2 linked regions of the Homo sapiens genome follow. Each later gene encodes a partner of the first gene's protein in a complex. Each region holds a gene or a part of one and is shown on either strand. Other genes may lie near its edges. A codon is read from its position in the direction of its gene.

Region 1 (3,748 bases):
GAACATTTTCCTTGCAATTTTTAAATCAAACTATTTGAGAAAAATACTCTGCACAACTTAGTACAAACAATTTAACAAGAAATCAGCTAGTCTTGTATAACACTTGTTAAGATCTCCTATCTCCTCTGGTCTAGTATCTGGTGTTTATTGTTTTCTAATACAGTAAAAACATTCATTGATCACCACACCAAAATACATACATGAACCTAAGTTTCCAAATACTGAAACTGCTGTTAACAGCCTATTATTGTTTTAAATATGACTTATAAGTCCCAGTGTAAGTCATAGTTTTTTCTAAAGCATGCCTAGCATGACACAGCATGCAAATGACACAACTTTAATAAAATTTTCTCTGCCACCAAAATGGTGGTCAACTCCCCGAAGTCCACTTGTCTTTTTTTAACCCAAAAATGACACTATTTGTTGGAACAGACCTGATTTTCTATAACCTTGAAGACTGAAGTACACAAAACCTCTCAAAAACCGTTCAGCAAGTTACAAATGCCTACCTTGGATATAATAGCCATCTCTCAGTCCACCGAATTTCTCCTGGCCGGCTGTGTCCCATACATTGAACTTAATAGGTCCTCTGTTGGTGTGGAACACTAGGGGATGAACCTCAACACCCAAGGTGGCTGAAACGGAAACGATGCGATTGAGTGGATGAACTTACCCATTTCTCACATATTTCCACAAGCAAGGTTTTCCAGCACATACCTACATACTTCTTCTCAAATTCACCAGTCAAATGACGTTTCACGAAGGTCGTTTTTCCAGTACCACCATCACCAACCAATACAAGCTGTTGAAAAACACATTTTGGAAGTAAACCCTAAACACTTCACCTCTCAAGATCCCAGAGTCACGGAACTTTAACCACCACAGGCTCACTTAAAACAAAGAATGTGGATGCGGGGCCCCATTACAGCCATCGTGGCCCCAGGAGGAGGGACCCGCGAGTCGCACGCGGTCGGGCTCGGCCGCCTCCCGCCCCGCAGGGTTACCTACTTTGAACTGGACCTGGGGCTCTCCCTGCGCAGCCATCGCGGCGTTCCTGCGGAGGCAGAGGACGGAGGCGAGCGCTCGCGCGGCCCCGCAGCCCATGGCGGCCCCGCTCCCGCGCCCCCAGCGCCCCACGTGCCCGCCCCACAAAGGCCTCCCGCCCGCGGCGCCATGGCGGCCAGGCCTGGGAGCGGGAAGGCGGCGGGCGGGGCCGGCATCCGGGGCGGCGGGGCCCGGGGAACGGCGGCCGGAGGTGTAGGGATGGGAACGGGACTGGGACCGGGACGGGGATGAGAGCGGAGGATGAAACGGGGGTTCGCGGGGGCTAGCGCCGACCCCACGCCCGTCTCCTGCCCCGGCCCGGCCGGGCCCGCACCACCCACCTACTCAGCCGCCCGCTGCCCCTGGGTCCGCCACCCGCCCCGGCCCTGGCCCCGGCTCCGACCCCTATCCCGCCGCCGCCACCCCTGTCCCCGCCCGGCCGTGCCGGGCCCGCCGGGTCGCGATACCTTCCAGAAGCGTCTCCGCGCCCGTCCGACTGAGGCTGGAAAGATGGCGGAAGCGCAATTCAAACGCCGGAGACGCAGCCGACGCCGGCGCGAGAGCAGGGGCGGGGCCGGCGCGGGGCGGGGTTGCAAGGGGCGGGGCAACGGCGCGGCGCCCGCCCACGTGGCCCGCGCGTGCGCGCACGCACGCAACGCGGTTCGGTCGGCCGCTCGGGCGGTCGCTGCGCTTAGGGTGGGGCGGGAGGCGCGGTGGACCGCGTGGGAGGGCGAGCCGGGAGCGCGTACGCAAGCCGGCCGGTGGGGACCGCGTGCGCCGACGCCCCGGGCGGGCTCCCGGGCGCGCATGCGCTGAAAGCGAGGCGGCGCGCCCCTGAGCGGGAGACGTTGGGCGCGGCCCGACGGTCGCGGCTCTCCTGCCTCCCGGGTGGGAGGCGGTACTCGCTCGGGCAGACGTGGTCAGGCACGCGGCTTCCAGGCGCTGGCCAGCCTGTCCTTGTCTGTGCCCCGTGGGGTGGGGGTTCTTGAGGTCCTGGGGCTTAGGGTGGCTCGCGTGCGCGCAGGACGGGTGGGTGACAGAACGAATGAATGAATGAATGGGGTCTAGGCCCGTCCTCCAGAGGCAGCCCGCTGTTCTGTCTCTCCAGATCGTAGCCTTCACGCCCCCAGGACCAGGGCCAGTTGGAGAGCGAGGAACCAGAGAGGGATGCACCCACCCAGAAAAACGGCTACTTATTTTTTTTAAGAGACGGAGTCTCGCTACGTTGCCCAGGCTGGTCTCGAACTCTCAGGCTCGGGCGATCCTCCCGCCTCAGCCTCCCGAGTAGCTGGGACTACAGGCGCGCACCACATCAGGGGTAATTTTTTAAAAATTTTTTTGAGAGACAGAATCTAACTATGTCTCCCAGGCTGGCCTCAGGGGATCCACCCGCCTCGGCCTCCCAAAGCGTCCGGCTTCTCAAAGCGTTTCATAGGTTGGCAGCTTTGGCCGCTGCATGCTACAGACAAAATGATGAAATACTGTTTGCAGTCTGGACGCGTCTACCAGCCCTAGTTACCAACGGGGACGGAATGAGTAAGTGCTCAGCTTCCCAGCCCCCTGTTGGCCTGAAGCTGTAAGAGCCCAAACAAGCTTGAGCTAGAGGGACCCGACTTCCTGGGCGCCCCTGCCGACATGCAGACAGATAAAGGCCCAAATCAGCGCAGTCAAGCGCCTCAGAAGAGTCCACCATGGGGAGAGAGCCGCAGTGACCGAAGAGTCCTCCCTGCAGTCCTGAGCACACTTGCAGGCGAGTCCGCTAGGAACCCCAGTGACGCAAATTAGGCACAAAGCAGGCGACAACCGGCCTGCTGGGAACGCAAGTCCGAGCTCCCCCAGAACCCTCAGGGGAACCCCAAGCACCTCTCAGACGCTGCTGGCGGGAGAGCAGAATCTAACAGTAAAACGGGAATGCCCATTGCTTGTGACCCCGGATTTCCATTTCTAGGGAGAGGCCCCAGAGTTAAACTCATGCCTCACGCATGTGCACAACATTTAATACTGTATAACATTTAAAAGGAATGACGGTCATCTGTTTCAACAGGGTTAGATAGATGTCAAAAGGATAGTGTTGAGAAAAGAAGAAAGAGGTGATAACAGCTTTATAAAGTCTAGGCCACCTGTAATCCCAGCACTTTGGGAGTCCGAGGTAGGAGGATCCCTTAAACCCAGGAGTTACAGGCTGCAATGGGCAATGATCTCACCATTGCACTCCAGCCTGGGAGACAGAGCAAGACCCTGTTTTCAAAAATTAATACATAAAACCTAACACTATATGTAACTTTATCTAGAGGGATTATATATATAGTATAATGTCATTTATGTATATTTTTTACAAATACACATAAAACAAAAGCATATTGGCTATTGGATATATGTATTTTGTTGTTTTTTTTAATTGACTGCAAGGATCTATATACCATATCCTGATGGTTATTGCTTCAAGAAAGGGTAGAAAGGAGTGTGATGGAACTGAGAAGAGGAGTCAAAGAAGACTTTAACTTTACCTGCAATGTTCTATTTCCTTTTTTTTTTTTTTTTGAGACAGCCTCACTCTCGCTCAGGCTGGAGTGCAGTGGTGCGATCTCGGCTCATTGCAACTTCCGCCTCCCAGGTTCAAGTGATTCTCCTGCCTCAGCCTCCTGAGTAGCTGGGATTACAGGCATGCGCCACAACACCCAGCTATTTTTTTTATTTTTATCTT
Region 2 (3,748 bases), on another chromosome or scaffold:
GAGCCACTGCGCCCGGCCACTGTTTTCTTTTAAGACAGTGAGACTTTCCATATTAAACAGGTGGGAATGTTCTTTTCTGCACAGACATTTGTGCGCGCTCATTTTTCTTAAAACAACCACCCCCTTTGGAGCAGCTGTTGTTTGCCTGTGAGGAATGCCGCTAAAACAGGTGCTGACAGAGGACACTGGCAGAGGTTACGCAGAGATGGCTCGCATGTGTGGCCCAGGGCCAAACTGACAGCGTTTCCCAGGGACTCCAGAAACAACGGGAAGGGTTTGTTTCCCTTCAAGGGCAGAAAGAATGCTCTAACTGCCTTCTGGGCTCCCTACCAGCAACCACCTTATCTCCAAAGCCTACAGACAAGAGTCACTGTCACTGTTCCCACACGCCCTGTAACTTTCCTCCCTTGCCCACTATTCTAAATCTTGGTTTTGCCTTTGGTACTTGACTCAGTCTACCCACTGACTCCCTCACATGTGAGTGAGCAATTTGCAAATAACTGAACAGTAAGCAAATAACTGAACAGCGTGGAAAAGAACCACCGAAATACCTCTGCGTTCTGTTATTCTTTGACAACATGGTTTTTTTTTTTTTTTCTTTTGACAGGATTTTGCTCTACTGGTCCAGGCTGGAGTACAGTAGCTTGATCATAGCTCACTGTAGCCTTGAAATCCTGGGCTCAAGCAATCCTCCTCTCTCAAGCTCCCAAGTAGCTGGGACTACAGGTGTGCACTACCATGCCTGGCTAATTTTTTTTTTTTTTTTTTTGAGATGGAGTCTTGCTCTGTTGCCCAGGTTGGAGTGCAATGGCGGAATCTTGGCTCACTGCAACCTCTGCCTCCCAGGTTTAAGTGATTCTCCTGCCTCAGCATCCTGAGTAGCTGGGATTACAGGCACGCACCACCACACCCAGCTAATTTTTGTATTTTTAGTAGAGACAGGGTTTCACCATGTTGGCCAGGCTGGTCTTAAACTCCTGACGTTGACTTTGGCCTCCCAAAGTGCTGGGATTACAGACGTGAGCCACCGCGCCTGGCCTTTATATAATAGTTTGTATGTGATGTGTCATTTTTTTTCTTTTTTTGAGACGGAGTCTCTCTCTGTCACCCAGGCTGGAGTGCAGTGGGGCAATCTCAGCTCAGGGCAACCTCCACCTCCCAGGTTCAAGCAACTCTCATGCCTCAGCCTCCTGAGTAACTAGGACTACAGGCATGTGCCACCACGCCTGGCTAATTTTTGTATTTTTCGTAGAGATGGGGTTTACAACAGCACCCCCTTTCCCGAACACATACACCGTTTCTGACTCCCCTTCCAGCTTAACTGTGTTCCAGGGACCCATGACCATCTTATATGCTCAGTATATGGTGTCTCCATCTTGTCCATCATCTCCCTCCCTGCTGTAGGGAATCAACTCAGTGAACATTTACTTTGACAGAAGCTGACAAACAAGGGCCAGCGGGGTCTTGGGGTGAGTGTCATGACATCAACCACAAAAAGCACTTGGCTTCAAGCAAGCTGTTATCATATCTGAGCCACGTCCTGGAATAATGGTGACTCTCTGGGCAGAAGGTTTATTCTGAGCCCGGAGTCTCCCTATGTTGCCCAGGCTGGTCTTGAACTCATGGGCTCAAGCGATCTCCCACTTTGGCCTCCCAAAGTGTGGGGATCACAGGACTCCTCCTCTTGGAAGAAGGAGGCCTCCGCTGCCCTCTGCCTCCTACCAGCCCCAGGTGGGAACACCTCGCCCACCTGAGAAATCTGAACTTAAAGCCAGTTGTTCCTCCCCCTGGCGGTAGCTTTTGGGGCTGCAGGTGCCAAACTGCAGGTACAGGGAGAAAACACTAGAACACTTATTTATTTTCAATGTTACCACTCTTTTTTGTTTGTTTGTTTGTTTTTTTAAATTGAGATGGAGTCTTGCTCTGTCACCCAGGCTGGAGTGCAGTGGCACAATCTTGACTCACTACAACCTCTGCCTCCCAGGTTCAAGCGATTCTCCTGCCTCAGCCTCCCGAGTAGCTGGGGTTACAGGCACCACCACACCTGGCTAATTTTTGTATTTTTAGTAGAGACCAGATTTCATGATGTTGGACAGGCTGGTCTTGAACTCCTGACCTCGTGATCTGCCCACCTCGGTGTCCCAAAGTGCTGGGATTACAGGCGTGAGCCACCGCGCCCGGCCACCTGTTTTATAATTCGGGGTTCTGAGGTGTGATCTAGAGCTTGAATTAATACTGTTGTAGTGCATCATGTCATTTCTATACATATTCATAAAACAGGTAGAGGCAGCAACATTTTGTTGTTGTTTTGATTTGTTTTTTGTTTCTTTGAAACCAGGTCTCCCAGGCTACAGTACAGTGGCACCATCATAGCTCACTGCAGTCTTGACTTCCTGAACTCAAGCAATCCCCCTACCTCAGCCTCCTGAGTAGCTGGGGCTACAGGCACACGCCACCCTGCCCAGCTAATTTTTGTATTTCTTGTAGAGACAGGGTCTCCCTATGTTGCCCAGGCGGGTCCCAAACGCCTGGGCTCGAGCTATCTCTCGCTTTGGCCTCCCAAAGTGCTGGGATTACAGGTGTGAGCCACTGTGCCCAGCCCATCAAGATTTTTTTACTGTTAGGGGTGTGAGACTCTCCAAACCAGAAGCCAACAATGTGAGCCATCCTTGCTTGAATGCCCCAGGGAGAGGCCCTTGGCTAAGCACCTGACGTGTACGAGACATGTTTATAATTGGGCAAAGCACAAAAAACTATAAAAAGGTGCCCCTTCCTTAAGGCACAACATCTACTTGTTGGACACGTGTCATAGTGTATGGATTTTGTTAGATGAAGTCACTTTGGAAACTCGCTCATAACCAATGTGAAATCTGGGGTGCCTATAGTGCACACAGAGTCCCTTCAGCCATAGGCTCCTTCCACATCACACATGGGATGGCCCTGAGAGGAGGTCACTGCCACCGCACTGCAGACCTGAGAGGGCAGACCTGAGAGGGCAAACCTTTTCTGGCCCCTGTTTGACGGAAGGGGAAACTGAGGCAGAGAAGACGTGACTCACGGCAGGTCATGCAGCAAGGAGGCAGTAGGCCAAGCCCTGGCCCCGCATTGCTGGAGTCCCCGCCTGAGCTCTTGGGCACGCAGCTCTGCTCCTCTGCTGAGGACACCATGCCCGTTCCACCCGCCCATCCTCCTCCCAGGATGCTCGCATCCGCCTACCTGCGTGTAGCAGCGCAGGAGTAGCCCCTTGTCCTTCAGCAGGCGCATGAAGTAGTGACAGATGGTTGGCTGCAGGGAAGAGCGACAGCACTGCTGACGACTGCAGGGAACAGCCACAGGCCACTGCCGCATGCCAGGAACTGTTCTAGGCACTGTGACTGTTTTACCCCCAGGGAACCGTCACAGCAGCCGCGTCGGGGAGAGACCACTGCTATCCCCAGATCACAGATGAGGAAACTGAAGGACAGGGAAGGGGATTGTGTTGCCAAAGTCACACGGTGGGTAAGCTGCAGAGCTGAGATTCACACCCAGGCAGCCCGGCTGCAGGGTCCCGGGCTCTCAACGGCATCATTAGTCAGCTAAGCCTCGCAGCAGCCCTCTTCAGACAGTACCATTAGCTTCACTTCACAGGAGGCAAATCGGAGGCTCAAGGTCGTAAGATGAAGACACGAGGAACCAGGACTTGAACCGAGGCAGTCTGGGCCCAGCACCCATGTACTTAATGGCTACATAATATTTGTCTGCAGGGCCT

Evidence for each region. Proteins that work in one complex are often made in the same cells at the same time.
Region 2: the proteins of RAN (region 1) and SIRT2 are in contact, whole or in part, in a crystal structure (PDB 5FYQ), measured with the Homo sapiens proteins. Residues at the interface, in NP_006316.1 of Homo sapiens: Phe35 (codon at 736), Glu36 (codon at 733), Lys37 (codon at 730), Lys38 (codon at 727), Tyr39 (codon at 724), Val40 (codon at 721); in NP_036369.2 of Homo sapiens: Phe96, Arg97, Glu116, Phe119, Gln167 (codon at 3,219), Ile169, His187, Ile232, Val233, Phe234, Phe235, Gly236, Glu237, Ser238, Leu239, Phe244, Gln265, Val266, Gln267, Pro268.

Annotation. Positions count from the first base shown.
Region 1 is NC_000012.12:130,869,890-130,873,637, reverse strand, and holds the start of RAN (GTP-binding nuclear protein Ran), read right to left. Parts: upstream 1,573-3,748; 5' UTR 1,512-1,572; intron 1,055-1,511; 5' UTR 1,045-1,054; coding exon 1,009-1,044; intron 803-1,008; coding exon 718-802; intron 636-717; coding exon 510-635; intron 1-509. UniProt on the Homo sapiens protein: GTPase involved in nucleocytoplasmic transport, participating both to the import and the export from the nucleus of proteins and RNAs. Switches between a cytoplasmic GDP- and a nuclear GTP-bound state by nucleotide exchange and GTP hydrolysis.
Region 2 is NC_000019.10:38,885,871-38,889,618, forward strand, and holds part of SIRT2 (NAD-dependent protein deacetylase sirtuin-2), read right to left. Parts: intron 3,286-3,748; coding exon 3,217-3,285; intron 1-3,216. UniProt on the Homo sapiens protein: NAD-dependent protein deacetylase, which deacetylates internal lysines on histone and alpha-tubulin as well as many other proteins such as key transcription factors.